Homo sapiens: one gene and its partners. The protein of the gene in region 4 purifies or fractionates together with the protein of the main gene of each other region. This does not show direct contact. Each region holds a gene or a part of one and is shown on either strand. Other genes may lie near its edges.

The links.
Region 1: the proteins of SLC25A40 (region 4) and SQLE purify together in Homo sapiens (co-immunoprecipitation; one large-scale study listed by IntAct). This does not show direct contact.
Region 2: the proteins of SLC25A40 (region 4) and HIGD1A purify together in Homo sapiens (co-immunoprecipitation; one large-scale study listed by IntAct). This does not show direct contact.
Region 3: the proteins of SLC25A40 (region 4) and TUBAL3 purify together in Homo sapiens (co-immunoprecipitation; one large-scale study listed by IntAct). This does not show direct contact.
Region 5: the proteins of SLC25A40 (region 4) and CHDH purify together in Homo sapiens (affinity purification with mass spectrometry; one large-scale study listed by BioGRID and IntAct). This does not show direct contact.
Region 6: the proteins of SLC25A40 (region 4) and FHOD1 purify together in Homo sapiens (co-immunoprecipitation; one large-scale study listed by IntAct). This does not show direct contact.

Annotation. Positions count from the first base shown.
Region 1 is NC_000008.11:125,007,616-125,012,576, reverse strand, and holds part of SQLE (squalene monooxygenase), read right to left. Parts: intron 3,607-4,961; coding exon 3,493-3,606; intron 3,406-3,492; coding exon 3,234-3,405; intron 1,041-3,233; coding exon 945-1,040; intron 1-944. UniProt on the Homo sapiens protein: Catalyzes the stereospecific oxidation of squalene to (S)-2,3-epoxysqualene, and is considered to be a rate-limiting enzyme in steroid biosynthesis.
Region 2 is NC_000003.12:42,797,462-42,802,422, reverse strand, and holds part of HIGD1A (HIG1 domain family member 1A, mitochondrial), read left to right. Parts: intron 1-4,961. UniProt on the Homo sapiens protein: Proposed subunit of cytochrome c oxidase (COX, complex IV), which is the terminal component of the mitochondrial respiratory chain that catalyzes the reduction of oxygen to water. May play a role in the assembly of respiratory supercomplexes.
Region 3 is NC_000010.11:5,397,618-5,402,578, forward strand, and holds part of TUBAL3 (tubulin alpha chain-like 3), read right to left. Parts: intron 3,471-4,961; coding exon 3,227-3,470; intron 1-3,226. UniProt on the Homo sapiens protein: Tubulin is the major constituent of microtubules, a cylinder consisting of laterally associated linear protofilaments composed of alpha- and beta-tubulin heterodimers.
Region 4 is NC_000007.14:87,832,004-87,836,111, forward strand, and holds the end of SLC25A40 (mitochondrial glutathione transporter SLC25A40), read right to left. Parts: 3' UTR 1,565-4,108; downstream 1-1,564. UniProt on the Homo sapiens protein: Probable mitochondrial transporter required for glutathione import into mitochondria. Glutathione, which plays key roles in oxidative metabolism, is produced exclusively in the cytosol and is imported in many organelles.
Region 5 is NC_000003.12:53,817,465-53,822,425, reverse strand, and holds part of CHDH (choline dehydrogenase, mitochondrial), read left to right. Parts: intron 1-649; coding exon 650-779; intron 780-1,817; coding exon 1,818-1,952; intron 1,953-2,751; coding exon 2,752-2,894; intron 2,895-3,385; coding exon 3,386-3,488; intron 3,489-4,230; coding exon 4,231-4,649; 3' UTR 4,650-4,961.
Region 6 is NC_000016.10:67,236,563-67,241,523, reverse strand, and holds part of FHOD1 (FH1/FH2 domain-containing protein 1), read left to right. Parts: intron 1-2,069; coding exon 2,070-2,176; intron 2,177-2,556; coding exon 2,557-2,621; intron 2,622-2,638; exon of another isoform or gene 2,639-2,711; intron 2,712-3,076; coding exon 3,077-3,144; intron 3,145-3,216; coding exon 3,217-3,322; intron 3,323-3,395; coding exon 3,396-3,490; intron 3,491-3,755; coding exon 3,756-3,867; intron 3,868-3,954; coding exon 3,955-4,049; intron 4,050-4,141; coding exon 4,142-4,285; intron 4,286-4,409; coding exon 4,410-4,558; intron 4,559-4,790; coding exon 4,791-4,961. UniProt on the Homo sapiens protein: Required for the assembly of F-actin structures, such as stress fibers. Depends on the Rho-ROCK cascade for its activity. Contributes to the coordination of microtubules with actin fibers and plays a role in cell elongation.

The DNA of each region.
Region 1 (4,961 bases), on a different chromosome or scaffold from region 4:
TGCTACAACATGAATGAACCTCAAAAACATTGTGCTAAATGAAAAGCCAGTTCCAAAGGGCTTTACTATACAATGCCTTTAGGAAACATCCCAAATAGACAAATCTAGACACAGAAAGTAAATTAGGGGTAGCCTAGGGCTGAGTGTTGGGAGGAAATGGGGAGTGAATACCAATGGGTACGGGGTTTCTTTGGGCAAGATAAAAATGTTCTAAATTTGATTGTGGTGGTGATGCACACACTGTGAATATACTAAAAAAGTCACTGTACTGTACACTTTAAATGGGCAAACTGATTTGTGAATTATATATCAATAAAGTTAGTAACAAGAAAACACTTCAAATGACTTTCCATTGTCTGTAAGATTAAATGTTAATGGTCTGTCTCCCACTCTGACACCCACCCTATGCTCCTGCCATAGGAAACTGCTTGAGTTCCTTGAAAGTGCCACCATTTCTCATCCTTTGGCAATGTTATTCCATCTACCTAGAAGTTCCTCATCTTAGTGTCCACCTCATGAACTCCCACTCATCCTCCAGGTCCAAGGTCCTTTGTTTCCACTGTTTCCTGAACAACGTCCTCCCTAACTACCCCTCCCATTTCACAAGCTTCCCTCCCTGCTCTGCACACTTCTTGACACTGAATCTGTGGGTTTTATTTATCAACAGTGTTGTAAAATTATCTGTCTACATTCCTAAGTAGAAAATTGCCTTCTCTAGGTCAAGGTCAGTTTTTTACCTGTTGTTTCCCTGACTAGCACAATACTTGTATACACTCAATGTTAACAACTAAATAGATCATAAAACTAATTTTGGTATTAATAATGCACTAATCCACAGTGACAAACTATCTGTCCCAGAAGTTATTCGTAACAGTATAAATTTAATCATATATTTGTCATTTGGAATACTGATTCCTTTATAAAATAAGCCCAAAAAATAATACCTCGTTTCTTCACTGATGAAGGAGGAAGGAAGCTTGCTGGCATGGACCTCAGATGAGAATTGTCAGTGGCTTCTAAGAATGGTTCTTTCAGGTGATCTGCAATAAATCCCACCAACCCAAAGAAATGGGTCATAACACTTCAATTTCAAAGTATCACATATTTTCTTATCAAGTATAAACAAATGCCTACTATACATCTGTTATGGTTGTTACATATATCCCTTGTGATAAATCAAGAACTAATTATTTCATTAATAAAATTATTCATTAAGCACTTAGCTGTTAATGCCAAGGAATGACTAAGGAATCTAAGAGAACATTAATATAAACATACATACAACTGAATGAAAAAACAATGAGGCAAATTCAGATGAAATGAAACAGGGAGAAAACCACCTACCTTTCTTCCAAATGTTAACAGACTACTGTCATATTTAATATTTAATGTATTATAATCAATATATTCTTGTAATAATCAGATGAAATACACTACCAATTCACAAACAGCAGGAGGGTATGTACACTAGAAAAGGAATTCGAGGCCAGCCCTACCTCTCTGAGCTTCAATTTCTTCATCTATAAAAATGAAATGGTTTGATCAGCTCATCTCTGAGATACTTCCAAACAAGCTTTAAATTTCTGTGCTACTTATATAGAAAATGAACTGTCATACAATTCCCAGTGTGATCTGGGAATAGAGGAGCAGAAGCCTCTGTTAAAAATTATTCCATTCATATTAAGGAGTAGAATTTTGGTAATCTAACTAATATTAATATAAACCTACCAATGGTTTCTCTCCATAATTTCAGGGCACTCTACTCCAATTAACCTCTGGATTGGAAAAAAGAAAAAAAAAAGAAAAACCACCACATTTACAATAAAAGAAAAATAAATGCTAAAAATATCAGGTAATGGATGACCCTTTTCATAAATATTCATAATTTCCCCATCTGAAAGCTTCAAAAGTGGCTTAACTAAATGAAAATTTATTGAAATGTTTCCATGTACATGTTGAAAATGTCATTATTTAAAATCTAAGTTTGCCCACTTCATTTCACTTCATTTCTGTTAATAATTTGTTACTAAAGTGGTTTCACTTAGTTTAAAAAATAACTTGAAAAAAACGGAATATTTAAACAAAATGTACTCATACCAAAAATAGTTTCCTATTACTCTAATCATATCATAATTGACAATGAGGGTTTCCCTTCAATTTTATCAAAATTCTTAAATTTTTTTTACTTTTCTTTCCTATATCATCCCATTCTCAAAAAAAGATCCTAAAAACTGTACCATGAAAACTTTAGATTTGTGAAAAAGTAATTTTTATTAATGTTTTTACAAAGCTATCTAAATCTCATGAAGCCTTTATATTCAACTCAAAACTAACATGATCCTGAAGATCCCTTACAATTCTCACATTCTGCGGACAGGACATGTCTGTTCAAACAGGCACATATGAGCCAGACAGACCTGATATCAACCCTGGTTCTGCCATTACTAATAGTTTATACTTGGAGGAGCTAACTAATCTCTCTGAACCTTAGTTCTCCCATCTGTAAAATGAGAATAATGATAATGCCTACCTCACAGAGTGGTTACATAGATTAAATGAAATTATGTTTGCTAAACACTTTATAGTAAGCATTCAAGAAATGGTAGCTGTCATTACTACAAAAACCAAGCACAAAAATATTTAGGTATAAGAGATAAAGAATTCAGAGTCAGATTCGTGTCCAGAGACTACCTTTAAAAATACCATATATGCCAATAAAAACAATTATTCTAAAAACTATGCTATTATGTGACAAAAACATATCAAAACTTTTTTTTTTTTTTGAGACGGAGTTTCGCTCTTGTTGCCCAGGCTGGAGTGCAATGGCACGATCTCGGCTCACTACAACCTCTGCCTCCCGTTCAAGCGATTCTTCTGCCTCAGCCTCCTGAGTAGCTGGGATTACAGGCATGCACCACCACACTCGGCTAATTTTGTATTTTTAGTAGAGACGGGGTTTCTCCATGTTGGTCAGGCTGGTCTTGAACTCCCAACCTCAGGTGATCTGCCCACCTCAGCCTCCCAAAGTGGTGGGATTACAGGCATGACCTACTGTGCCCGGCCCGAAACTTTTTTTTATTAATTTGGGAGTTTGTTTTGCTGTTTTTAAGTGCTAGTTTAAATAGTTCAGTTCCAGAATATCTGGTTGACTGGATGAATGTTTCACCTGCCATCCTTATCTCTGGCCTATTTTAGACACAGCCTTTGTAAGAACTGAAGATGCTATTTCTTACCAGGTATTTGTGGGTAAATTTTTTCAACCATGTATTCTCTTAAATTCCTTGGCATTTCTCCTCTAATGTCAACAAGTACTCGAGTTTCACTGGATGAAATCTGGTAGATGAGAACTGGACTCGGGTTAGCTAAAATAAGTTCAGCATGATTTGCTTTAAACTGTGGTGCATTCTAAAACAAATAAAAAGAAAATGTTTTAATAATTTTCAAATTTCAAGTTTCTTTTATTGAAATTACAATAACACACTCCTACAGTACCTTCATAAGAAAGCCAACAAAATGAGATGATACAGAAACTTTATTGGAGACCAGGCTTTTCCTGAACTTGGAGAAAAGCCCATCTGCAACAACAGTCAGTGGAGCATGGAGTTCCTATAACAGAAATGAAGACTACTCAGTTTAGTAGTCAGAAACACACAGTAAAAAAAGCCATTCTTAAAAAATGTGCGTGAAGAGATTTAGATATATTATCAGATAGCATTATAGAGAGTAGTTGAAGATAATACTATTGAAGAAACTGTTACGTGGGCTTCAGATAACGCATGACCAGTGTTTAGATACTTCCTCTGAGTCCCTGAGGATCATCTCCCTTTGTAGCCCTCCCATGCAAACCATCTGGGATTACTCTCCACTTTGACAGACAATGGGGGAAACAACTACAAGGCAGGCATGTAACACAGAGCAGTCAATCTCATTACAAATTCAAGGGACTAGCCAGATTCTTTCATTCTAAAATTTCCTAACTTCATATAGTGCTTTTAGTCAGCAGCTAGGGCTTAGAAGAATTTTTGTACAAATGACTACATGTATTTATAATACTACAGTATGAGCAGAGAAAACATTCCAGTCACCTTCATTAGAGGACAATTTCTAAGAGGTGGTAACCCTATGGGGAGCAGTCCAGAATTACATGTTTTTTACTACGATAATTTTTTTTTAAAAAAAGGAAAAATTGGCCGGGTGCGGTGGCTCACGCCTGTAATCCCAGCACTTTGGGAGGCTGAGGTGGGCAGATCACCTGAGGCTGGAAGTTCAAGAGCAGCCTGACCAACATGGAGAAACCCCGTCTCTATTAAAAATACAAAATTAGCCGGATGCGGTGAAGCATGCCTGTAATCCCAGCTACTCAGGAGGCTGAGGCAGGAGAATCGCTTGAACCTGGGAGGTGGAGGTTGCAGTGAGCCGAGATCGCACCATTGCACTCCAGCCTGGGCAACAAGAGTGAAACTCCGTCTCAAAAAATAAAACAAAATAAAATAAAATAAAATAAAAGGATAAATTGTTTTTAAAAAGATTCTCTTACTATTACCTGAGTTAAATTGCTCATTTTATCTGAATCATTTCTTTTATGTTGAATCTTGCCTTCTTTCCCCTGCTAGTTCCCCTCTGCTTCTCTGCTGATGTATATTACTGTTTCAAAAACTATTCACATTAGTTCTGTTTAAAATGTTTTTTGCATAGCATTCTGAAGTCCTCTAAAGAACAATGTGTTGCAATCTGAAACCCATCCTGTTGCATATGGCTTAGAAAGAACTCAGTTCATTTGATAAATAACACAGGCTGAGTATCTCTAATCCAAAAATCTGAAATCCAAAACTTTTTGAGCAGTAATGTGACAAACAAAATACTCATTAGATCATTTCAAATTTCAGATTTTCAGATTAGAGATGCTCAACTGGTAAGTATAATGCAAACATCTGAAAAAAATAAAAAATCTGAAACACTTC
Region 2 (4,961 bases), on a different chromosome or scaffold from region 4:
AATGTACACATAAGGTATTCTGGAATCACAGACAGATTATCATCTGTCGTTTCAAGCAAATAATGACCATTTTGTTCCCCACACCCTGATGCTTACCGCAGGGGCTACTTTCTGAAACCCAGGTCAAATGCCCTATCCATACAAGCTTCAGAGTCTGTATCATAGATGAAGAACGGAGAAATAGGTTTTCTTCTGTTCTTGATTTATATACAGGAAAGAGACAACTAACCCCCTCCCTCCTGAAAGGAGAAAAAAAAAAAAACCTTTTGCTCCATTGACCTGTTGGAGAATTAGAGTCAGCCAGATGTGAGATAATTATAAGAAAAACTACCAACTTTCTTGCTATTTTTAAAAAACGATTTATGTCCTGTTTTTGTTTGTTTGTTGGGTCCCTCAGCAAGGGTCTTGCCTGTTGCCCCGGCTGGAGTGCAGTGGCTGGATCATGGCTCACCGCAACCTCCACTTTCCAGGCTCAAGCAGCCCTCCTGCCTCAGCCTCCTGAGGAGCTGGGACTACAGGTGTGCACCACCATGCCCGGCTACCAACTTTCTTGCTTTTAAAGACAATTCCCAAATGATTTTTTAGTTTAGAAATGATTCAGGCAAAAAAGGGGAAAACATGCTTTTATATCTGCAGAAGTTTTTAGTTTTTAAAAGTGGATTATGGTATATAATAGTTTTGTCCCCTGTGTTGCAAGGAACTAAGACCTCAGGTTATTTCTCTTTTCATAGGTACAATATAAGAAACATAAAAGAAATAAGCACTTAGGTACATACAGTTAGGCATTTTTCTTACTGATTAAACTCTACAAATCTGTATGATTGTTATTTTTTTGTACTCAATATTACTGAATAACCTAAGAATGCTTTCAGTTGTTGAGAAATGTAACTTTTAAATGTATTCAAGAAACATTTGTAGTGTACATATTATATATAGGGTATTGCACCAGGCAGTGGAGTTGGATACAAGCAGAGCAGGTATTGGTCCCTGACTTGAAGGATTCTAGCAAAAGAAACAGACAAACTGGTGCTTATAAGGGTTATAAGGAAAGTACAAGGTCCTATGGGACTGCATAACCAAAGCACTTACGAACTTAAAGAGACAAAAATTTCTGAGAGGAGGTCAATTAAGATGTGAACCTGAGTCCAGTATGGTGGCACCCAGTGGCAGTGTGAACTGTGAGGAGTTCGCCGAGTTCCAGGAATTACTCAAGGTGATGTGGACAGTTGATACAGACTAGTACATTAATTAAACACTACAGTTCCAACAGCTTCCTTTGCAGGGAAGATTGATGCCAGCCAAACCTGTAAACAACTTTGAGTCTTTGATGGCAGCTCATGCCAGTAGGGACAGAGTCATAAAAAACTATATAGCCCAGACCTCAGCAGTAGTAAAAAACCTCTGAGAAGAGAGAGAAAAGAATTTGGACGATTTAATATTGTTAAAGCAACTCAGAACAGAGCAGGCAAAGTTGAAATGGATGTAGTCAGAATGATAAATGACAGGAGCTGGAAGGAGTTTAATGAATGCTGCCGAATTCACTTCAAACCTCCAAATAAACAGAATAAACGGAGATACTTTTTTTTTTTTTAAAGGACCGGGTCATCTCATAAGAGCTAAGCATGACAAATGTCAACAGGGCGGGCTTCCTAGGATGATTTCTGAGCCAGTAGTCCAAGACCTTTTGTTGATTTCAGCCCCACTTAGGCAAGACCTCAAATATAAATAATTCTGATAATTATGGAGAAATCAACTGCTATTTTATACTGATTCTGTTAAAAAAAAAGTTTTGTAACTATTAAAATAATGTTCTGACTCAGTGTAAAAAAAGAAAAACCAAACCTGAAAAAAAAAATGGGAGGAGTTAGCTAGGAAAGAGTATCTGAAGGGGATGGAAAGGGAGGGAAACTCTCACAAGTAGAGGAATCAGCTTGTGCAAAGGCTTAGAGGTATAGAGAGCATCTTAAAAATATTTAATGTGGTCAGAATGTGGGGTTGGGAAGGGAAATGAAAGGATTTGTGATAAACTTCCCCTTTGAGAAGGTCATGTTTTTTTTTTCTTTTTCTTTTTCTTTTTCTTTTATTTTTTAAAATTTGAGACAGAGTCTCTCTGTGGCCCAGGCTGGAGTGCAGTTGCACAATTTCAGCGCACTGCAACCTCTGCCTCCCGGGTTCAAGCGATCCTCCTGCCTCAGCTTCCCAAGTAGCTGGGATTTCAGGCATGCACACCACTATGCCCAGCTAATTTTTGTATTTTTAGTAGAGATGGGGGTTTCACCATGTTGACCAGGCTGGTTTCGAACTCCTGACCTCAAGTGATTGCCCACCTTGGTGCCCCAAAGTGCTGGGATTACAGGCATGAGCCACCGCACCTGCCCGAGAAGTTCATGATTAGATATGAAGGCAACTAGTAAACATACTGGCCTAAAATAAATACAGTGTTTAATCTCTCTATCCAGTCCATTTATGCAGTTTCTTCAAAGCCAGTCTCAAGTGTTTCTCTGTGAAACGTGCCAAACCTCCTTTAGCTAAAATACATCACTCTCTCTAAATTCAGACCTTGTCTGTGTTAGGCTTTTGACAACTAATTACACTGTGATTGAAACCACCATTGCAAAATTATAACTGAGACAGTGAAAGAGATCTGACCTAGCCAAAAAAAGATGGAGCCAGGCATGATGGTTCACGTCTATAATCCTAGCACTTTGGGAGGCTGAGGCGGGCAAATCACTTGGGGCCAGGAGTTTGAGACCAGGCTGGCCAACATGGCAAAACCCCATCTATACTAAAAATACAAAAAAAAAAAACCAGGCATGGTGGTGCACACCTGTTATCCCAGCTGTTAGGCTAAGGCACAAATCACTCAAACCTCGGAGGCAGAGGTTGCGGTGAGCAAAGATCGAGATCGTGCTCCAGCCTGCGTGGCAACTAGACCCTGTCTCATAAAACAAAAATAGAAAAATAAAGCAAAGATGGTAACAGCCCTTTCCTAAAACAAACCCCCTTCTTGCCTGGGGACTAGACTGCCTTTGTAGGTTTAATGAATTAGCCACAGATTAGAAATTATGGTTTAGGAGTCGTGCAGCTGGAAGTTATAAGATTCTTTTTTTTTTTTTTTTTTTTTTAATTTATTTTTTTATTGATAATTCTTGGGTGTTTCTCACAGAGGGGGATTTGGCAGGGTCATGGGACAATAGTGGAGGGAAGGTCAGCAGATAAACAAGTGAACAAAGGTCTCTGGTTTTCCTAGGCAGAGGACCCTGCGGCCTTCCGCAGTGTTTGTGTCCCTGATTACTTGAGATTAGGGATTGGTGATGACTCTTAACGAGCATGCTGCCTTCAAGCATCTGTTTAACAAAGCACATCTTGCACCGCCCTTAATCCATTTAACCCTGAGTGGACACAGCACATGTTTCAGAGAGCACAGGGTTGGGGGTAAGGTCACAGATCAACAGGATCCCAAGGCAGAGGAATTTTTCTTAGTGCAGAACAAAATGAAAAGTCTCCCATGTCTACTTCTTTCTACACAGACACGGCAACCATCCGATTTCTCAATCTTTTCCCCACCTTTCCCGCCTTTCTATTCCACAAAGCCGCCATTGTCATCCTGGCCCGTTCTCAATGAGCTGTTGGGCACACCTCCCAGACGGGGTGGTGGCCGGGCAGAGGGGCTCCTCACTTCCCAGTAGGGGCGGCCGGGCAGAGGCGCCCCTCACCTCCCGGGCGGGGCGGCTGGCCGGGCGGGGGGCTGACCCCCCCCACCTCCCTCCCGGACGGGGCGGCTGGCCGGTCGGGGGGCTGACCCCCCACCTCCCTCCCGGACGGGGCGGCTGGCCAGCCAGAGGGGCTCCTCACTTCCCAGTAGGGGCGGCCGGGCAGAGGCGCCCCTCACCTCCCAGACGGGGCGGCTGGCCGGGCAGGGGGGCTGACCCCCCCCACCTCCCTCCCGGACGGGGCGGCTGGCCGGGCGGGGGGCTGACCCCCCCACCTCCCTCGCGGACGGGGCGGCTGGCCGGGCAGAGGGGCTCCTCACTTCCCAGTAGGGGTGGCCGGGCAGAGGCGCCCCTCACCTCCCGGACGGGGCGGCTGGCCGGGCAGGGGAGCTGACCCCCCCCACCTCCCTCCCGGACGGGGCGGCTGGCCGGGCGGGGGGCCGACACCCCCACCTCCCTCCCGGACGGGGCGGCTGGCCGGGCGGGGGGCCGACCCCCCCACCTCCCTCCCGGACGGGGCGGCTGGCCGGGCAGAGGGGCTCCTCACTTCCCAGTAGGGGCGGCCGGGCAGAGGCGCCCCTCACCTCCCAGACGGGGCGGCTGGCCGGGCGGAGGGCTGACCCCCCCACCTCCCTCCCGGACGGGGCGGCTGGCCGGGCAGAGGGGCTCCTCACTTCCCAGTAGGGGCGGCCGGGCAGAGGCGCCCCTCACCTCCCGGACCGGGCGGCTGGCCGGGCGGGGGGCTGACCCCCCCACCTCCCTCCCGGATGGCACGGCTGGCCGGGCGGGGGGCTGACCCCCCACCTCCCTCCCGGATGGGGCGGCTGGCCGGGCGGGGGGCTGACCCCCCCTCACCTCCCTCCCGGACGGGGTGGCTGCCGGGCGGAGATGCTCCTCACTTCCCAGATGGGGTGGCTGCTGGGCGGAGAGGCTCCTCACTTCTCAGACGGGGCAGCTGCCGGGCGGAGGGGCTCCTCACTTCTCAGACGGGGTGGTTGCCAGGCAGAGGGTCTCCTCACTTCTCAGACGGGGCGGCCGGGCAGAGACGCTCCTCACCTCCCAGACGGGGTCTCGGCCGGGCAGAGGCGCTCCTCACATCCCAGATGGGGCGGTGGGGCAGAGGCGCTCCCCACATCTCAGACGATGGGCGGCCGGGCAGAGACGCTCCTCACTTCCTAGATGTGATGGCGGCTGGGAAGAGGCGCTCCTCACTTCCTAGATGGGATGGCGGCCGGGCGGAGACGCTCC
Region 3 (4,961 bases), on a different chromosome or scaffold from region 4:
GGTTGCTCAGGGGCTTTACTACCCAGCATGGTGCCCTTAATCAATATCCTCAGAGACATCAATGGCTTTTGAACAATTACATGATGGCTCCTTAGCTTCCTTAACTACGGTGTCAGTCAGCTGCATTCCACTTCAATCATCATCACTCAGAACTCTCCCACTTCCAAAATCTTAAACATGCAAATTCCTTTTTCTGACCACAACTTCCTCACTTTGCCCTAACTTCACCCTTGAGCCTGCCCCAGACCATCTTCCCAGACTCATCCCCTGCTTTGAGCTCCTGCTCACACCTATGCCTGGCCAAGCTGAACTCCTGGTTACACTTGCGGGGCATTCCTTCATGACTCTGAATTTGCAAATGCTGTCACCTCATGAGAAGGTGTGTGAGGCTGGGTGTGGTGGCTCATGCCTGGAATCCCAGCACTTTGGGAGGCCAAGGTGAGAGGATTGTTTGAGGTCAGGAGTTTGAAACTAGCCTGGGCAATATAGTGAGACCCTATCTCTATAAAAAACAAAAAATTGGCCGGGTGCAGTGGCTCTTGCCTATAATCCCAGTAGTTTGGGAGGCCGAGGCAGGTGGATTACTGGAGGTCAGGAGTTCAAGACCAGCCTGGCCAACGTGGTGAAACCCTGTCTCTACTAAAAATACAAAATTAGCAGGGCATGGTGACATGTGCCTGTAATCCCAGCTACCCAGGAGGCTGAGGCAGGGGAATTGCTTGAACCCGGGAGGCACAGGTTGCAGTGAGCAGCGATAGTGCCATTGAACTCCAGCCTGGGCAAAAAGAGCAAAACTCTGTCTCAAAAAAAAAAAAAAAAAAAAAAAAAAAACTTATCCACATGTAGTGACATGTGCCTGTAGTCCAAGCTACTCAGGACCCCAAAGTGGGAAGACTGCTTGAGCCCAGGAGTTCACTGAGCTATGATTACGCCACTGCACTCCAGCCTGGGTGACAGAACAAGACCCAGTCTCTCTCGCTCTAAAAAACAAACAAACAAACAAACATATTGGATGACTCCCCGGTTATTCATTCCTTCTGCCTTGCAGAGCAAGCTTGTCCATCCCGCAGCCCAGGATGGCTTTGAATGCATTCCCACGCAAATTGGTAAACGTTCTTAAAACATTATGAGATCGTTTTGCAATATTTTTTTTTGGTTCATCAGCTGTTGTTAGTGTGAGTATATTTTATGTGTGGCCCAAGATAATTCTTCTTCTTCCAATGTGTCCCAGGGAGGTCAAATTATTGGACACACTTGTTGTAGAAATGTCTATTAAGTTGTATCATATACAATACAATTAACTTTTTTAGATTAAAAAATAGTCATATACTGGCAATTTTATATGGCTCAATTTCAACAGTGTTGTTATAACTATTTATTTTTTCTTATTCACTAGATTAGGCTACTTTCCTGTTAAAAGACAATAGATTTAATAAGAAGGCAAACCTAGGACCAAACCCAGCTCTACTCTAATAACTCAGTGATCTTAAGCAAGTTCCTTGACTTCCCCAAGATTTATAAAGTTCCTCATCTATAAATTGAGGATGATAATAATGTCTCCTGACAGAGTGTTGAAAGAATTAGAGGAAAATACCTGTGCAGTTCCCCAACTAGTAAACAATAGCTGCTGTGGACTAAATGGCTGTGTCCCCCCACAATTCATGCGTTGAATCCCTAATCCCTGATGTGATGGTATCTGGAGGTGAGTCTTTGTGAGTAATTAGGTCATAAGGGTAGAGACTTCATTATGGGATTAGGGCCCTTATAAGAAGAGACACAGACTATTTCTCTGCCATATGAGAATACAGTGAGAAGGCAGCCATCTGCAAGCTGGGAAGAGAGCCTTCACCAGAAGCCAACCACCAGGCACCCTGGTCTCAGACTTCCAGCCTCCAGAATCGTGAGAAATCAACAACTGTTGTCTAAGCCACCGGGTCCATGGTGTTCCAATACAGCAGTCCGAGTTGACCAAGACAGGCATCTTCACGTCGAAGGCAAAAATCAACATTTATTCATCTTTGTACTTCTATCACCCAGCTGAAGTGTTTATGGGGTTGTATTCAATTCCTTCTTATCATGACCTTGAATTCGTCAGCCTCTCCTTTTCTCCACCCCTCCCACTCTCTCAGTCAACAGCCAGCACCAAGGGGCAGCGATGTAAATGAGTGACTTTCAAAGTGGATGCCCCAGTTCCCACTTGAGCCTTCCAAGCTGGTACCACATGGAGCACAGGCGAGCTGTCACCTCTGAGCCCCACCCAAACTGTAGATTCATGAACAAACCAGCAATCATTATTGCCTTAAACCACTAAATGTAGGGGAAGTTTATTACACGCCAACAAATAATGGGATGCACAACATCAAACCCAAATCTACCCCACTGTCTAGCTTTTCTCTTAAGTCAGTAAGAGCCCCTTCTCTCTCCTTTATTTTTCTAGCTCCATTTCAAGAGTTTTTGCATGACATACTACAAGTCTATTGTTAGTAATCATAAAATTGTACTGTTTTTCCCATAACTAGGGTATATATTTGGCCTCTTTTTCCTTTAGGATTCTTTTCAAATATTCTACTCTTTTTAAGCAGCTATCGAAAAACTTTTTGATTCTTTGCCAGTGCCTTCTAGCAAATGGCTCTCAAACCCAGGAAAAGACTTAGTGTTCTATTATGATATATGTGTGGATCAATTAGCAGGTCTTAATTCATTTCATCACACAGGTAAAGAAGGCTAACCTAGGCCAAGTGTGGTGGCTCACGCCTGTAATCCCAGCACTTTGGGAGACTAAGGCAGGTGGGTCACTTGAGGTCGGGAGTTCAAGACCAGTCTGGCCAACATAGTGAAACTCCATCTCTACTAAAAATACAAAAATTAACCAGGCATGATGGTGTGTGCCTGTAATCCCAGCTACTCAGAGGCTGAGGCAGGAGAATTGCTTGAACCCAGGAGACGGAGGTTGCAGTGAGCCCAGATCACGCTACTGCACTCCTGCCTGAGTGACTCATCTCAAAATAAATAAATAAATAAATTTAAATTCAAAAACACTAATCTGGTCTTCCCTTTGGGTGTGTTTGTCATGTTAATCACCCATGGCCACTGAGTAAGCCTCTACATTTGGGAAAGGTCCATGTGATTCCATTCAGATAGACCTGTATAATCTGCTAATCCCATCCACTTGATTTGTTTGAGTGTGGCTCCAGTTAAGTATGCTAGAATGGAACATTTATTGTACCTATAACAGTTGGCTCCAAGTCCACGAAGAGTGCTCTAGGCACATGCTTCCCAGCTCTTGTCTCACAGAAGAAGGTATCGAAAGATGCATTTGTGTGCTCCATTTTTGCATTTTCCAGCTGATCCTGTTGAGTGTCAAGAACAACGCCATTTGGCTGGATTCCATGTTCCAGGCAATAGAGTTCCCAGCAGGCGTCCCCAATCTGGATGCCAGCTTGACCGATGTGGATGGAAAGGCACTCCCTCTAAAATAAGTCATGGTGAGTTGGAACTGAGCAGGTGTTTAGAAAACAGGAGATCTGTTACTCAGCCCTTCTGGTTACAAATGACAGAAACCAAGCTAGCTTAAGGCCACGGAGGAATGTGTTATAAGGATAATCAAAAGCGTTTCATGGAAACCAAGACCCAGGGTACAGCTAAGCTTCAGGGAAAATTAAACCTGGGATTTAAATTCCATTAAAAAGTTTATTTTAACAACATAAATTAAGCACCTACTCTGTACTTGGCTAAGAATTGAATTAAGACAAACACACACAATGCAAATCAAAATACAACTAATTTTACTTTATTCTTTCAATATAGGTGAGATGTGTGTGTGTGTGTGTGTGTGTGCGTGTAGTTATATATATCAAGTGGGCTTGTCTAGAAATAAAATTAGCTAGTTATTGGAAAGAAATAAAACTAAAATCAATATATAGCCTTGTCAAGTACTAAAACTCATCGCAGATAAATTTAAAATGTTATCTTTACCATTCATATGCACTCTGAATAAGGATGGATATACTAAACTTAAAACTAGTGGGAAATTTTACAAGGCAAAATGCAATAGATTTAACAGTTCCAAAATGTAAAAGTTTTATAACAAACATATAGAGATAAAAATTGATTTTATATACATCAACTTTCTAAAAAAAAACACTTAAGACATCCACTAGCTAGGCAAATGATATAAACAAACAAATTACAAAAGAAAGACTCTAAAATGCAAGGATGTAGGCTGATGGCATTCACAAGCATCACAATTCATAAGCATGAAAACCAAAAACCAATCTATTTAATCTAACCATTTATATATTGTTGAGCATTTAAAGGATGTTACATCAACACAATGACATGTTATGCAACCCTTAAACGTTTTCCCAAAAAAAAAAGATTTATGACATGGGAAATGCTTATGATAACATATTAAGTAAAAAGCACATAAGATGCATGATTGCATATAGAGTATGATGTCCAATATGTTCAAAAATAGGCATAAAAATCTAAAAGAAAATGCATCAAGATATTAAGTTTAGTAATATCTGGGTAGTGATTTTATTTTCTTGTCTAAACTTTACTATTTCTTCCACCTTCATATTCCCCCATCCCACTTTAAATCATCTTTTTTTTAAGGCAAACAACTATTCTGTTAAACAGACAATGATCTACGTTTTTAAGAGAAGGAAAGAAAAAAAATGAGAAGGAAAGTAAAAGCTAAATTCTAAGAAATCTGAGGTGATAGCAATCGCTGTTCTTAATATTGGTGTGGTTTGATTGACTGTGGTGCTGAAACAAATCTATTTAGAGGGTCTTGTAGAATGAGACCCCCATGTCTTCTGCATCATCAGGACCCTTTGGGCTGTTTGACCAGATAAGCTGAGGGGAGCCCTGCCCTTGTTCATGGCTACACTGCCCTAAAGCCTGAGATTCAACTACTGAAAGACCTCAGGCCTCCTGTCAATCCCTCACCTGTGGTC
Region 4 (4,108 bases):
CATCTGAGGATCATGACTTTTCCTCCTTTCTTGGAGATCTTGGTATAAAATTCATCTGCTGTTATAAAATCAGGTTTCTACAGAGTTCGTTTCACACTAAAGGTAGTTTGTTACTGTTTGCATGAGGAAACCATGTATGTCTCAATCTTTAATTTTAGGTGGTAGTGTTTATTGTTCACCCTCCCTCTTGCCTCCAAAAGAATGCTGAATTATACGCCAATATTTCCATGTGTATTCTGTTGCCTTGATGCGTACTATACTTGTTGCATGTATATTAAAAATTTTGTACTATGCATTGGTGGTCTTATTTTGCTTGACAAAAAGTTACCTGATTTAAGTACACTTAACTTTTGTTTCAGCAAATGTGGTAAATATATATTATTTCACACCTAAAATACTAACATGAAAATGGAATGGGAGAAATCCTTATTTCAACTCACATCAAGTTAAATATCCTATTTTTTAAAAGTAACATGATATGCTTTAGAATACACAACATCTATTCAATCAATCAGTACAGTTTAGTAGTGGTTCTGGCAGTGTTACTGATTTAATTATAAAATAGTCATGTTTGTTTTCTCACCTGTAAGAATCATCACTATCTTCTTGGCACCTAAGAGATGGCATCAGGATGATGTAAGCATTAAATAAAATCATATATAAAAGAAGTTCTAAAGAGATAAATGCCAAATGCAAGCTACTACTAATTATGAGTGGCAGAAAAAGTAGATCATAAGTTAGTTGTTAAATCATTAGATTTACATACAGTTTTAAGTGGTTATCAATGTGTCCCAAATTTACAACTTAGAAAACTGCTTTGTTAAAGTTCCTATCATTAGATGAAATGTGCAGATTTTGCTAAACTAAACTAACATATTGGATTACCACTTAAGTGTCACAAGACTGTTGTTCATTCTGCTCTTCTGAAAGCAAAGCAGCTTCGATTTAGTTTTAGCATTTGTCATTTTAACTGATTGATAGGAAAGGGAAGCTAAAATTACCTCTTTTTCATTATGGTACATTTAAAAAGCATATTTTAATACAAACCAAAACTTTTAGATTTTAACATAGATCACCTTATCATAAGCCCCATTTTCCATACTGCTGGGTATCTTCCAAAACCCAAGTCTAACTAACTGTTACAACTTTGCCAAAAAGTTTTTCCTAGGTTTCTCACAGCCTTCTTGTTCCTCCTTAAGCGCACAAGGCCTTAGATTACATTTCCATGTTTACACTTTCCCATGTATACACTTTGTTCAAGCCATATGGACTAAATTCTATTGCCTTATTGAGACTCCCACTTCCCTGCATGTTTACTTATTGGATTGCCTGTCTGTCAGTCCAACTCAGGTTTCCTGACCACTCCCCTTCTCTGCCCCCAGGCTGAGTGAACAACTCCCCATATTTCCCATGACTCCCTTTGTATGTTTCTATCAATCACTCAATCATAGCTCTGAAACCTCCTGTGGCCAGTAACAATATCTGAAATATCTTATCATCTCCAGTGCTTTTTATATACTGCCTACTACATAAAATGTCCCAATAAATGTTGACAGATTAAATATAAAAGCAGTAATATCTTTTATTTAAAAAGTTCATCTTAGAAGAAAATTCAAAAGGGATACAATAAACTTTTCCATATCCCAAAAACTTGTGCCCAAGACAAAAAGAGGGAAGAATTTAAGTTTAGGGGTACATATGCAGGTTTGTTACACAGGTAAACTTTTGTGTCATGGGGATTTATTATACAGATTATTTCATCACCCAGGTATTAAGCCTAGTACCCATTAGTTATTTTTCCTGTTCCTCTCCCTCCTCCCACCCTCCACCCTTTGATAGGCCCCAGTACATGTTGTTCCAAGAGGGAAAAATTTAAAAAACATATGCAGTTAAATAACCATAATGAATAGTTTTCCTAGAAAAAAAAATATTGCCTTTTAAAAAAAATCAAATATGTACTACTTTAAAGGTTGCAACCATCTCATATTGAAAATTAAAGATGTTCCTTCCTAAAATTTTACATTAATCAATTAAATGTTTATGTTAGAAAATTTAACATTAATAGAATAAAAACTGTTTTAGAAACATCACCAAGAACACTGTTGTGGCACATGTTTGCAAATATTGCAATTCCTGCAACATCATATGTATTGAAAAGTCTGGAAAGCCCATGTGGCTGAGAGTTAAATTTATATACTGAAGTAAAACCTGGGAATATTCATCATGCCAATTATAGTTCAATTATTTTATCAGACAGAACTCTGAGAGCAAATTAAAATTTTAAAATTTTACCTATTCCATAGACTGAATTTTTCTAGGTACTATTTTAATACAAATTATTATTATAGCAAAATTCTGAACACTTTTTGGTTGTTAGTATATTTTAAAAGTATTAATATTTCTTTTTACCTCTTAAATATAAAGAAAGCTTCAATTCAGCCTTCTATTCATCCAGATACATTGCATGTATATGTGTTAAAAAAACGACTAGGCAATTAGATTTACTTATCTTACTTTATTCATAAATAAGAATTTTCCTAAGTGCAGTGAGGGGTAGGAGACATGGAAACCTTTCTCATACTTATAGGTGATATTAAACTGAAATATATAACTGCCTTTTGGGAACAGTATTTTTTCTGTTTTCTATGAATTACCCATAAGCATAGCAAAACCAAGATAAATTTAAATTTAATATTGTTAAAGAGCACTGTTCAAGATAAACTTTCATGTATATCACAGTATAGCATTATACAATGATTTTACGTAAAAATATTTAGAAGCACAGTGATGATTTTAAGAAGCCATAAAACATTTTAATGAAATATAAGAAAGTCATGAATATTTATGTGGATATGTATGTTGCAAATTTAAGGTAAATCAACATAGGATAAACACAGAAGATTACATACAAACCCTACATATTTTATTTCTGGTGAAACATATAAACACTTTCCTACTATAGTACAAAATCAATTAGTTCCTCTACCAGCACTAAAGACTTGTCATCTAAATATATTCATTTTAGGGGAGAAAAAAATGCTTCACATTTTTCTAAAATAAAGACTGCAATAAATTAGTGCTTTAAAAAATATATATATATAGGATATAGATCCTAAGAAAATAAAACTAAAGTATAAAAAATGAATAGCATTTCTTTTCCTGCCATCATATCCTTTCTTATCTCATTCCTACATAGAATGAATGATAAGCTAAATTATTTAGACATGTATGGTGACTGAAAGCAATGTCTTCAAGGAAACAGCTTCTTGTTTAGCCTCTTACTCTACCATACTTAGAGTAAAAATCAAAGGATATTTTAGAAATATCTTGTAACTATTGTTGTAGCAATAATCTGTCTTGTTAGAACAACACAATAAAAATGACCTAGAGAATTCCATGAACAATGATACTTGGATTACAAGAGAGCTAAAAATCAGAGGCTATTCCTGTGTGCAAACTATTTTTACCAGTCTAAATACTATATGGTTTACCACTGAACACCCAAGTTTGACTGAAGTGAACATTTGCTACTATCAGTAAAAAACTCCCTCTCTTACAGGAATGGCAGAAATATAGACATTTAGTCATCAAAAATGGCACAATGTACATCACACAAATGATTATATTATGGTTCATAAGGAAAACAGCCACAATTTTGATCAGAGAAATGTTAATACATATGAAGCCTTAAAACAGCAACATGGCGGGGAAGGAGAGGGAGGCGGGAACCTAATGCATTTGAATTAAAGGAAACAGGCAATATTTGGTCGATGTAAACAATGCTATTTAACGAGTGCTTTATCTACTTTACTGAAATACGGAAATACTTATGTACACGATTTAAATGTGCACAAGACTTGGGCTTTTTTCTTCTAGACTATGTACATCATTCAGCACACAATTCAAAAAGTTCTGGTGTATTCAACACACTCCCAGTAAGATTATGTTACACTGAAACATATAATATTAAACTTTCAAGAGACTGCTTTTGATGCTAAGGAGTAATCTATTTTTACAAGAATGCTCAATGGTGGTGATTTCTAGAATATCTTTTTCAATATCACCAAAAATAAGATAAAATTTATTTTAAAATTATGATTTAGAGGTA
Region 5 (4,961 bases), on a different chromosome or scaffold from region 4:
GAGTGGGCAGGAGTCACGCCCTCACCCCCAGACCCACGTGCTCATCCCTGTGATGGCGGGGGGAGGGGCGAGTAGCTGATGGCAGTGGGCTGGTGGAGGTGAAGAAGCCCCTAGTCCTGCCACCGAGAAAGGGCCTATGGTGTCAGTGCCCCTGTGTGCCATGCCTAATTCAGAGCTCTCCCCCAGTACCTTCCACACCATTTCAAGGCACCGATGTCACAGAAAGCTATAGGTTTAAAGCTATAGGTTTACACTAGAGGTTTTAAAACCCATAAATGTGATTGTACTCTATTTCTGTGTTGTTGGCAGGGGGTCTGATTGTTTTGCAGCTTCATGTGTAGATCTGGTTCACCGCTTGCTCTCTCTAAACCACCCACTTGAATGCCTGCTTTCATTTATCTCGTGTAAGCCCTCCCCTCCTGTTTCTAAGGCTGTCACTACTGTCCAGCTGTAGTTGCACCTGCTGGTTGCTTTCAAGTAGTGACTCAGTGAGTTTCCTCTCCTTAGCTCTGGGGCCTGTCCCGGGTGTGCCACAGGATTCTACATCCCAAGGCTGTGTTCTCATGGTGCTGGCTAGAGTAGGGCGCTGGTCTGTGAGTCAGGAGAACAGCTGGCTTTTCAGGGAGTGACCTGGCTGGACCTCTTCCAGGCTTATGCCAGCAAGGAGGTGATTCTGAGTGGAGGTGCCATCAACTCTCCACAGCTGCTCATGCTCTCTGGCATCGGGAATGCTGATGACCTCAAGAAACTGGGCATCCCTGTGGTGTGCCACCTACCTGGTGAGTCCCCTTCTTTACTGCTCCCCAGAGGCTGTCTCTGCTCAACAAAAGGCTTAGTGTATGTATCTTATTAGCATGAAGTGGGGAGGTGGTGGCAGTCAGTGATCCTTGGAACTATCACATTGTCCCCGAGAGCCCGAAGGTTTCCCAGGCCTCACTGGACACTGTCATCCCTGGGCCCCGAGTCTTGCATTGTTTTCCTTCTCCCTCCTCCGGCTGCCCTATTTCATTTGGAGAAGGGCACCCTGCAGCAGGGAGTATCTGCCCTGAAGCCCCACTGGGTCGGGCATGGGCGTGTCACCAGGGCAGCTCTATGGCGAGAGGGGTCCAGGCCTCGTCCTTCCATCCACAGGACTCGCTGGCTGCCCTGAGCATGAATGAGGTCAGCTCCGTGCTCCAGAGCCTGCTCTTCATGTTAAGATGTAAACTTTGTTTTATAAACTGTCTCTGATGCTCTTGAGGGTCGGGCTCTGTCTCTTGCCCTCCTTGATAACCCCACTCCGGGAGGGCTAGGCCTTTGTGCCTTTAGGCTTCATCATGAGGGGCCCGGGGAAGTGCTGCTTCATGATGTTGACCTGCCCAGTGTCCCAGTAGGCTTGGATGAATTCATGCAAGGACGGTGTAGCACGACAGGGCTGCTTCCTCCTTCCCCACGCTGGCGTGAGGGTGGGGCTGCTGTCTGCCCCTCTGGCCATCACCATCCAGCAACCGCTCACCAAGCAGTGCCTGCTGAAGGCGTAGGCCCTGCCCTCACAGAGGGGGCTGCTGAGCAGGGCTGACAAGGGGCACCCAGAGGCTGCCGTAGGAGTGAGTGACAAGGACAGGTGGCCTTGGCAGCATCCGAGGCAGGCCAGACTTGGCCAGGAGTGCACACATAGTGTCTCTGGGAGGCAGCCTTTAAGCTGAGACCAGGGAACTGAGCAGGAGCTGGTCCAGAAGATAAGGGAATAGGAAAGAATTTTTCAAAACCGGGGGGATATTGAGAAGCAGCTGAGCCCCCTTGGTAGCCATTTTCTAAACCACTCCTTCCCGTATCAGGGGTTGGCCAGAACCTGCAAGACCACCTGGAGATCTACATTCAGCAGGCATGCACCCGCCCTATCACCCTCCATTCAGCACAGAAGCCCCTGCGGAAGGTCTGCATTGGTCTGGAGTGGCTCTGGAAATTCACAGGTGAGCACGCTTACCAGTAACCTGGGAGGAGACTGCCTATAAGCATTGAGACCTCCTTCCTGAGGAGCTGAACAGGGGTTCTGGCCACTGGGTTTGATGCGGAACTATGCCATTTACCTTAGCCCTGAGCCTCAGTTTTTCCATCTTCAAAATGGGGATGCACAGTTTCAACCTGACAGGTTGAAGCGAGGACCAGAAACAATAGCACATGCCAAGGAGCTTGGCCCAGGGCCTGCTGGAGGTGAGACTCCTCGGGGCTTAGGGGCTGCTCCTCCTTACGGATGAGCAGGGATGGCCTTGTGCTGGACAGCAGGTGAGGTCCAAGGAGCCAGGAGAAAAGGTGGAGAGAGGAGACTTTGGGGCTAGACTGCAGAATCAGCATTCATCTTTCAACCTTTTCCATTTGATTTCTAGCTGTGCCTGGGCCAGGAAATGGTAGTTTAAAATCCTACCCATCCACTCAGTCTGTATTTCTCACACACCTAGTATGTGCTGTGTGCTGTGCTAGGTAGTGGGAAGAGCCGGTAAGGCAGGTGGCATGGGCAGTGGCAGAATTGGCCCTGGTAGAGAGCAGAGCTGATGCCATCCTTTTGGCAAATAGCTGACATTTTATGGTGTGGTGCTGGGTGAGCCCCCTGTGAGGGGTGAACAGATGTGGACAGGACTTGGGTCCAGGCACTAGAGTGGAGTCCGGGAAAAGGAAGAGGAGCGGCCAGGAGAAAGGAGGGAAACCAGGAGCAGCCGGCCCACCTGCCACGGCCTGACTGGCTCTTCTGCCTCATCCTCTTCTGCTTCTCAGGGGAGGGAGCCACTGCCCATCTGGAAACAGGTGGGTTCATCCGCAGCCAGCCTGGGGTCCCCCACCCGGACATCCAGTTCCATTTCCTGCCATCCCAAGTGATTGACCACGGGCGGGTCCCCACCCAGCAGGAGGCTTACCAGGTGAGCAGGTGGAAGAGCCTCGGCTTCCCAGGATGTCTCCTTCCCACCAGGAAGGAAGATGCTCCCATCTTCCAAGGCAGCATTCTCCCTGGTGCCATATGGCTGCAGAGTGGGGGACACAGAGGCCTGTCCCCTGCCTTCCAGCTGCCCAGCGTGTCAGTCTGCGTGGTGCATGCCAATGGTATGACTGTTTCATGCAGGCTAGGTACCGAGCACCAGAAATGGGACAAACAGAGGGGCTGACTTGGCTCTGGGATCACCACCTCTGAAAGCTTTGAGCCATGGAGTATGAGGCCAGGATGAAAGAGTGATTCCTTGAGGTGGTCTGTAATCACTCGTGGAGGTGGGTACCATGCGGGCAAATGCTAACATGCATCTGTTCCCCACTGATTCTGGAAGCAGAGGCCCACCCTACAGGTAAACCAGGGTTGACAGAGGTCACTGTGGATGTCTATGGAGGGACCGTCACTGCTTCCTCTGTGTTCTTCTAGGTACATGTGGGGCCCATGCGGGGCACGAGTGTGGGCTGGCTCAAACTGAGAAGTGCCAATCCCCAAGACCACCCTGTGATCCAGCCCAACTACTTGTCAACAGGTACTTCACCCACCTGTGTCTTCCTGGGCTTGAACAAACGAATGCCTTTGTGGGGTTCCTGTTTATCCCTGAATCATACCCTTGGACTACACTTTCTAGGACACAAGTGACCCTCTGTCGTCCCCCACCGTGTCACTTTAGGCTGTAAACTTGCATAGGCAGCCCCGTAGTGTCCTGGGACACATGAGATAAATGAAGTCCCAGGGTTTAGACAGTAGGGGAGATTTTCAGCTTTCAGAACAATCTGCCATGATGTGCAGGGAGACCACGCCATGCAGGTGCCAGGTCTGTAGGTAGAGCATTTTTCCTGTTGTCACTCTGAGCAGTCTCTAAAAGCAAATTCCATTCCTGGGCCTGCCTCTTTGCATGCAGCAAAAACGAGCACTACCCACTGGGCAGGTTTTGCCCAGCAGTGGCTGCAGGGTGCTCACAGCCCCACTGTAGCAGGGGCAGGGTGTGTGTACTTATCCCTGCCCTACAGATAAGTCAGATCCCTGATTTAAACCTGGGCCTCTGGGTGGGCTGTGTCCGTGTAGGATGCTACCTTTGAGCTACACGGTACAGTCTAACCCGCTGTGGGCAGGGACAAGCAGCCTGCTGGCTCAGTCCCCCATGGCCCTGAACTTTGTCCCCAAACACCATCCCCTCAGACAGCTTACAGAGCCTCTCCATGCCGTGAATCTTCCAGTGAGGCCAGCACGGGCAAAAGGAGGGGTCCTCACCTGTTTCTTCTCCTCGACAGAAACTGATATTGAGGATTTCCGTCTGTGTGTGAAGCTCACCAGAGAAATTTTTGCACAGGAAGCCCTGGCTCCGTTCCGAGGGAAAGAGCTCCAGCCAGGAAGCCACATTCAGTCAGATAAAGAGATAGATGCCTTTGTGCGGGCAAAAGCCGACAGCGCCTACCACCCCTCGTGCACCTGTAAGATGGGCCAGCCCTCCGATCCCACTGCCGTGGTGGATCCGCAGACAAGGGTCCTCGGGGTGGAAAACCTCAGGGTCGTCGATGCCTCCATCATGCCTAGCATGGTCAGCGGCAACCTGAACGCCCCCACAATCATGATCGCAGAGAAGGCAGCTGACATTATCAAGGGGCAGCCTGCACTCTGGGACAAAGATGTCCCTGTCTACAAGCCCAGGACGCTGGCCACCCAGCGCTAAGACAGTTGCTGCTGGAGGATGACCAGGGAAGCCCCCTGATAAGCCAAGAGGGCCAGCACAGCCCTTGCTCCCAGGCTCCTGCCTGAAACTATCTAGCACACTAGGACCCAGGTGGTACCCTACTCAGTGGCTGAGAATTGGATAAAGTCTTGGGAAATGAGACAAGTACTGGGCAGTGAATCCAGCTCCTTTTCCCCAGCCTTTCCCTGTGGGCCATTTGGGGAAGGCCAGCATTCAGCCTGAGATGTTCCTCCCTGCCTCCTGGAGGGACAGAAGGGGAGGATGGTTAACTCCTGCCGCATCCTTTTTCTT
Region 6 (4,961 bases), on a different chromosome or scaffold from region 4:
GTGTGATTCGAGGGGATCCCTGACGGGGGTGGCTCTGGGGTAGGTGTGTTCTTCTAGGGTCCCAGAATCTTCCAGGCCAAGGGAGGGAGATGCGGCTGTGCCTGAATGGGGGTGGGGTGGTAGGCTGCTGAGTCACTGTGTGGGAAGAGATCAGGAGGAATGTGGGTTGCCCTCAGCTGAGCTGGCCCTGGACAAGATACCCCAGCCCTCAGGCCTTGCTGCCCCTTCTCAGGCCTGTTCCCAGTAGGCCCTGGAGAAGATGACTCTGCTCCCAGGGAGGGGAAAGTGGCCAGGCCTGCCCAAGGCACCCTGGGGAGGGCAGGCAGCCAGGCAGGAAGTGGGACAGAGAACAGGCTGGAGTGTTTGTCCTATGTCCCAGGTCCCAGGCGGGGGTGGGCGGGGGGGGGGGTCATCCAAGGGCCCCACAGGCTAAACTGTGGGGAAGGAGCCAGGTCAGGCTCTGAGGCAGGCGCAAGGGTTGCTAAACAGAGGTAGGGGTTGAGGCAGGAGCTGGACTCCCTTTTTCTCCAGGGGACCAAGGCCAGTTGGAAGCCCTTGGGCAGGGTCCAGAAGAGGGCAGGGCTGACCAAACAGCAGGACAAATGTTGGAATTGACATGCCCAGTAAGATGGAGACCAGAAGACACCCTGCCTCTCCAGAGGTGGGCTCTCCCTGGGCCAAGGCATCTCAAGGGCCAGAGCCACTTAAGTCAAGGAGACTTTGCTGAACCTGCATATCTGCACTGTGCAATGGAGGGAGGTGTCTGGGAGAGGTAGAGTGCCACCCTCCGACTCACAGGAGTCACCTCCCTCAGGCTTCTCTACAGGCACTTCTCAAGGGGCTAAGTGCCATGCCTTGTGGCGGGGGAGGAGAGCCCGGGGAGGGAAACATGGACACGTGGATGGAGCATGTGCCTGCTTGTTACAAAGGCAGGCTTTGGGGTCCTACTGTAGACTGAGTCAGACTCTTAAGTGTTTTGTTTTGTTTTGTTTTTTGAGACAGAGTCTCACTCTGTCTCCCAGGCTAGAGTGCAATGACATGATCTCGGCTCACTGCAATGTCTGCCTCCTGGATTCAAGCAATTCTCCTGCCTCAGCCTCCCCAGCAGTAGCTGGGATTACAGGCACCCGCCATCATGCCTGGCTAATTTTTGCATTTTTGTAGAGACGGGGTTTCACCACGTTGGCCAGGCTGGTCTAGAACTCCTGACCTTAGGCGATCCACCCTCCTCAGCCTCCCAAAGTGCTGAGATTACAGGCGTGAGCCACCACGCCTGGCCTAAAGTTAGTTTTTTAATAGGCCCCTTGGGTGTCTCTGAGGTCCAGCTAGGACCATTGTAACTGTAGCCCACTTTGGGAGAGGCCAAAGACCCTGAAATCTGGTGGGACTGGGAAGTCTATGGATCAGACCCTGTCTTCACCCTCTTACTCACTGAGACACACACACACACAGACACACTCTCCCGGGTGGGTTTGCACCTCCCAGCCATCTTAACACTTTCTTTCTGGGGCTTAATGCTTTGTGACTATAGCTTATCACCCCACAGGGCTGTGAGCTTCCTCGAAGGCAGGAACTTCCTCCCATCTTCTCTCCATTCCCCTTCCTCATCTGTGTTTATTAGCTCAACAAGTCCTAGTGAGTGCTTACTGTGTGTCAGGTGCTATGCCAGGCTCTATAGATACAGCAGGGAGCAAGACAGACGGAGTGCCTGAACGCAGAGAACGCAGCTAGAGGAGACCAGTGGCTCGGATATTAGAATGCTGTGTGGAAGGTCTCGAAAGGGAGCATACACACAGGGTGGAGTGGGTTGCATAGCAACCTAAAGAATAGGTAGGTATCAGCCAGGAGAGGAGATGGTACAAACAAAGGCCAAGAAAGCCTGGTGCCTGACACAGATGGGCTTTGCACATAGTAGGTGCTTGAGAAGCAACTGCTGAAGGAATGCACAGCTGTAGTGCAGACCCTGTGTCTCTCTGCCACCCTTCAAGTGGTAGGTAAGAGGTCAGGGGTCTTCATACATTCGCCTGCCACCTCTTCCTCAGTCTCACAGCTGTTCCCTTTGCCCCCAGTTGGAGGATTGTGCTCTGCAAGTGTCTCCCTCCGGATACTACCTGGACACCGAGCTGTCCCTGGAAGAGCAGCGGGAGATGCTGGAGGGCTTCTATGAAGAGATCAGGTCAGAACTGATGGGGCCAGGGAGGCAAGGTTACCCCCACCCTTGCCAGGGGCTAGCTCAAATGTCAGCAGCTGAGACACTCGATCACTAGCCTGAGCCATGGGTCACCTCCTGCCCCAGGGAAGTGTGCCAGGGGAATTCTAAAGCCTGGCCAGTGTTACCTGCTGCCCAAGGTGGGAGTTAGGGGCTCTCCCACATACCTGAGATACATGTGTTTGCACCAACCCTCTTGTCCGACCAACCCTTGGGTTCTTGGAGGAGCAGCTGGGAGGAACAAGCTGGGCTGGGGCTGGCATGGGGAGGTCTTTGGCTCCCTTGGCTTGTGGGGAGGAATGCTGAGGGATAGGCTGGGAGCTGCTAACAGAGATCCTTGATTCCAGCAAAGGGCGGAAGCCCACGCTGATCCTTCGGACCCAGCTCTCTGTGAGGGTCAACGCTATCTTGGGTGAGTGTGTGAGAGCATCCATGTCCAGCAGCACCTCCTCCCCATAGCCCAGTTGGCTCACCTTCAGGCCTGTGCTGAACAGTGAGCAAAGTAGGTTTAGCTGTATGTGCTCCTTCCTCTCCCTATCCTGACCTCTTCTTCCAGGGCCATGGTGGGAGTGGAGGGGGATTCAAGAATGTTAGAATAGACCAGGCGTGGTAGCTCATGCCTCCAATGCCAGTGCTTTGAGAGGTCAAGGTGGGAGAATTGCTTGAGGCTAGGAGTTTGAGGTTGCAGTGAGCTATGACTGTGCCACTGCACTCCACACTCCAGCCTGAGTGACAGAGTGAGACCCTGTCTCTCAGACCAAAACATATATATTAGACTATTCTTTGGTGGAGAGTTGTGGTTGTATCCAAGCAGAGGAAGACAGTGAGTCTGTGTCCATCAAGGGTTTTATACCCTACCTTTTGCAGAAAAGCTGTATAGCTCCAGTGGTCCTGAGCTCCGCCGCTCCCTCTTCTCACTGAAGCAGATCTTCCAGGTGAGGCCCCGCAGTGGGCTGGGGGTAAGTGTGTAGCCCAAGCTTCCCTAAACTCCCCCATGGTGCCTCTAGGAGGACAAAGACCTGGTGCCTGAATTTGTGCATTCAGAGGGGCTGAGCTGCCTGATCCGTGTGGGTGCTGCTGCCGACCACAACTACCAGAGCTACATCCTTAGAGGTCAGCCCCGCCCCTCTCCCATGACCTCTGCTCCAGCGACCCTCGCTGACTCTGCCCATCCCTGTTTCCCCAGCGCTCGGCCAGCTGATGCTCTTTGTGGATGGAATGCTGGGGGTGGTGGCCCACAGTGACACTATTCAGTGGCTGTACACATTGTGTGCCAGCCTGGTAAGTGGCTCTCCACTCAGCCTTATACCCTTTGCCTGTTGCTTCTCTCTGGGCCTCAGTTTCCTGTTCTGCAAAGTGAGCTGGAAGGGAGTGAGTCTGAGGCCTCTGTAAGCCTATAAGGCACTTCAGTGCCTGGGCCTGGGGCCAGGGTCATTCTGCCTAGATTCTCTCTGGGTCCAGCCCCAGCAGCCCTTCCCCTTCCCCAGCAACAGCTGGCACAGGTCTGGCCTAAGCCCCACTCATATGTACTGACCTCTCTCCTCAGTCCCGCTTGGTGGTGAAGACAGCCCTGAAGCTGCTGTTGGTGTTTGTAGAATACTCCGAAAACAACGCACCGCTGTTCATCCGTGCAGTGAACTCTGTGGCCAGCACCACCGGTCAGAGACTGTCCCTTTCTCCCCCCACCGCTCAGAGCCCTCTCTCCTACCTGTTCCCCCATGACTGCTCCACTTTCTGTGTGGCAGGTGCTCCTCCCTGGGCCAATCTGGTGTCCATCCTGGAGGAGAAGAATGGCGCTGACCCTGAGTTGTTGGTGTACACGGTCACCCTCATCAACAAGGTGTGGCCAAGGACTGGGTGCCAGCTCTGGGATGCTCAGGCTCCTGACCTCCCCACCAACCTCAGCCTTGCCTTCTTATCCCCGCCCTCCAGACGCTGGCGGCGCTCCCGGACCAGGACTCCTTCTACGATGTGACGGATGCACTGGAGCAGCAGGGCATGGAAGCGCTGGTCCAGCGCCACCTGGGCACTGCGGGCACTGACGTCGACCTGCGCACGCAGCTTGTGCTCTACGAGGTGGGCCGGGCCTTACGCTCTGAGGCGGATTGGAAAGAGGGAAGAGAGAAGCGCAGTCCCCAGCGCCCCACCCCACCTGCATACACGTTAACCACTTTCTTACATCCTGGTCCGCCTCTGCTAGAACGCCCTGAAATTGGAGGATGGAGACATCGAAGAAGCCCCAGGCGCTGGTGGGCGGCGGGAACGACGAAAGCCTTCTTCTGAGGAGGGCAAGAGGAGCCGCCGTTCTCTGGAAGGCGGGGGCTGCCCCGCGCGTGCCCCGGAACCTGGGTAAGTACGAGCATCTGTAGATGGGAAAGGGTGGATCTACTAGGCATGGCCCAGTGAGCTGACAGGCCCTGACCCCAACCCCCTCAGGCCCCGCCCCACAGACAGCCCCCACCTCCTCCACTGGGCCTGCCCTACCGACATGCCCCACCTCCCGCCCCGCAGGCCCCACCCCACTGACAGGCCCCGCCTCCAGCTTCTCAGGCCCCGCCCCACTGACAGCCCCTGCTTTCAGCCCCACAGGCCCCGCCTCACCGGTAGGCCCCACCTCTTCCACCGGCCCCGCCCTGCTGACAGGCCCCGCCTCCAGCCCTGTGGGCCCTCCCTCCGGTCTCCAAGCTTCAGTGAACCTTTTTCCTACCATCTCTGTGGCACCCTCAGCTGACACCTCCAGCGAGAGGAGCAT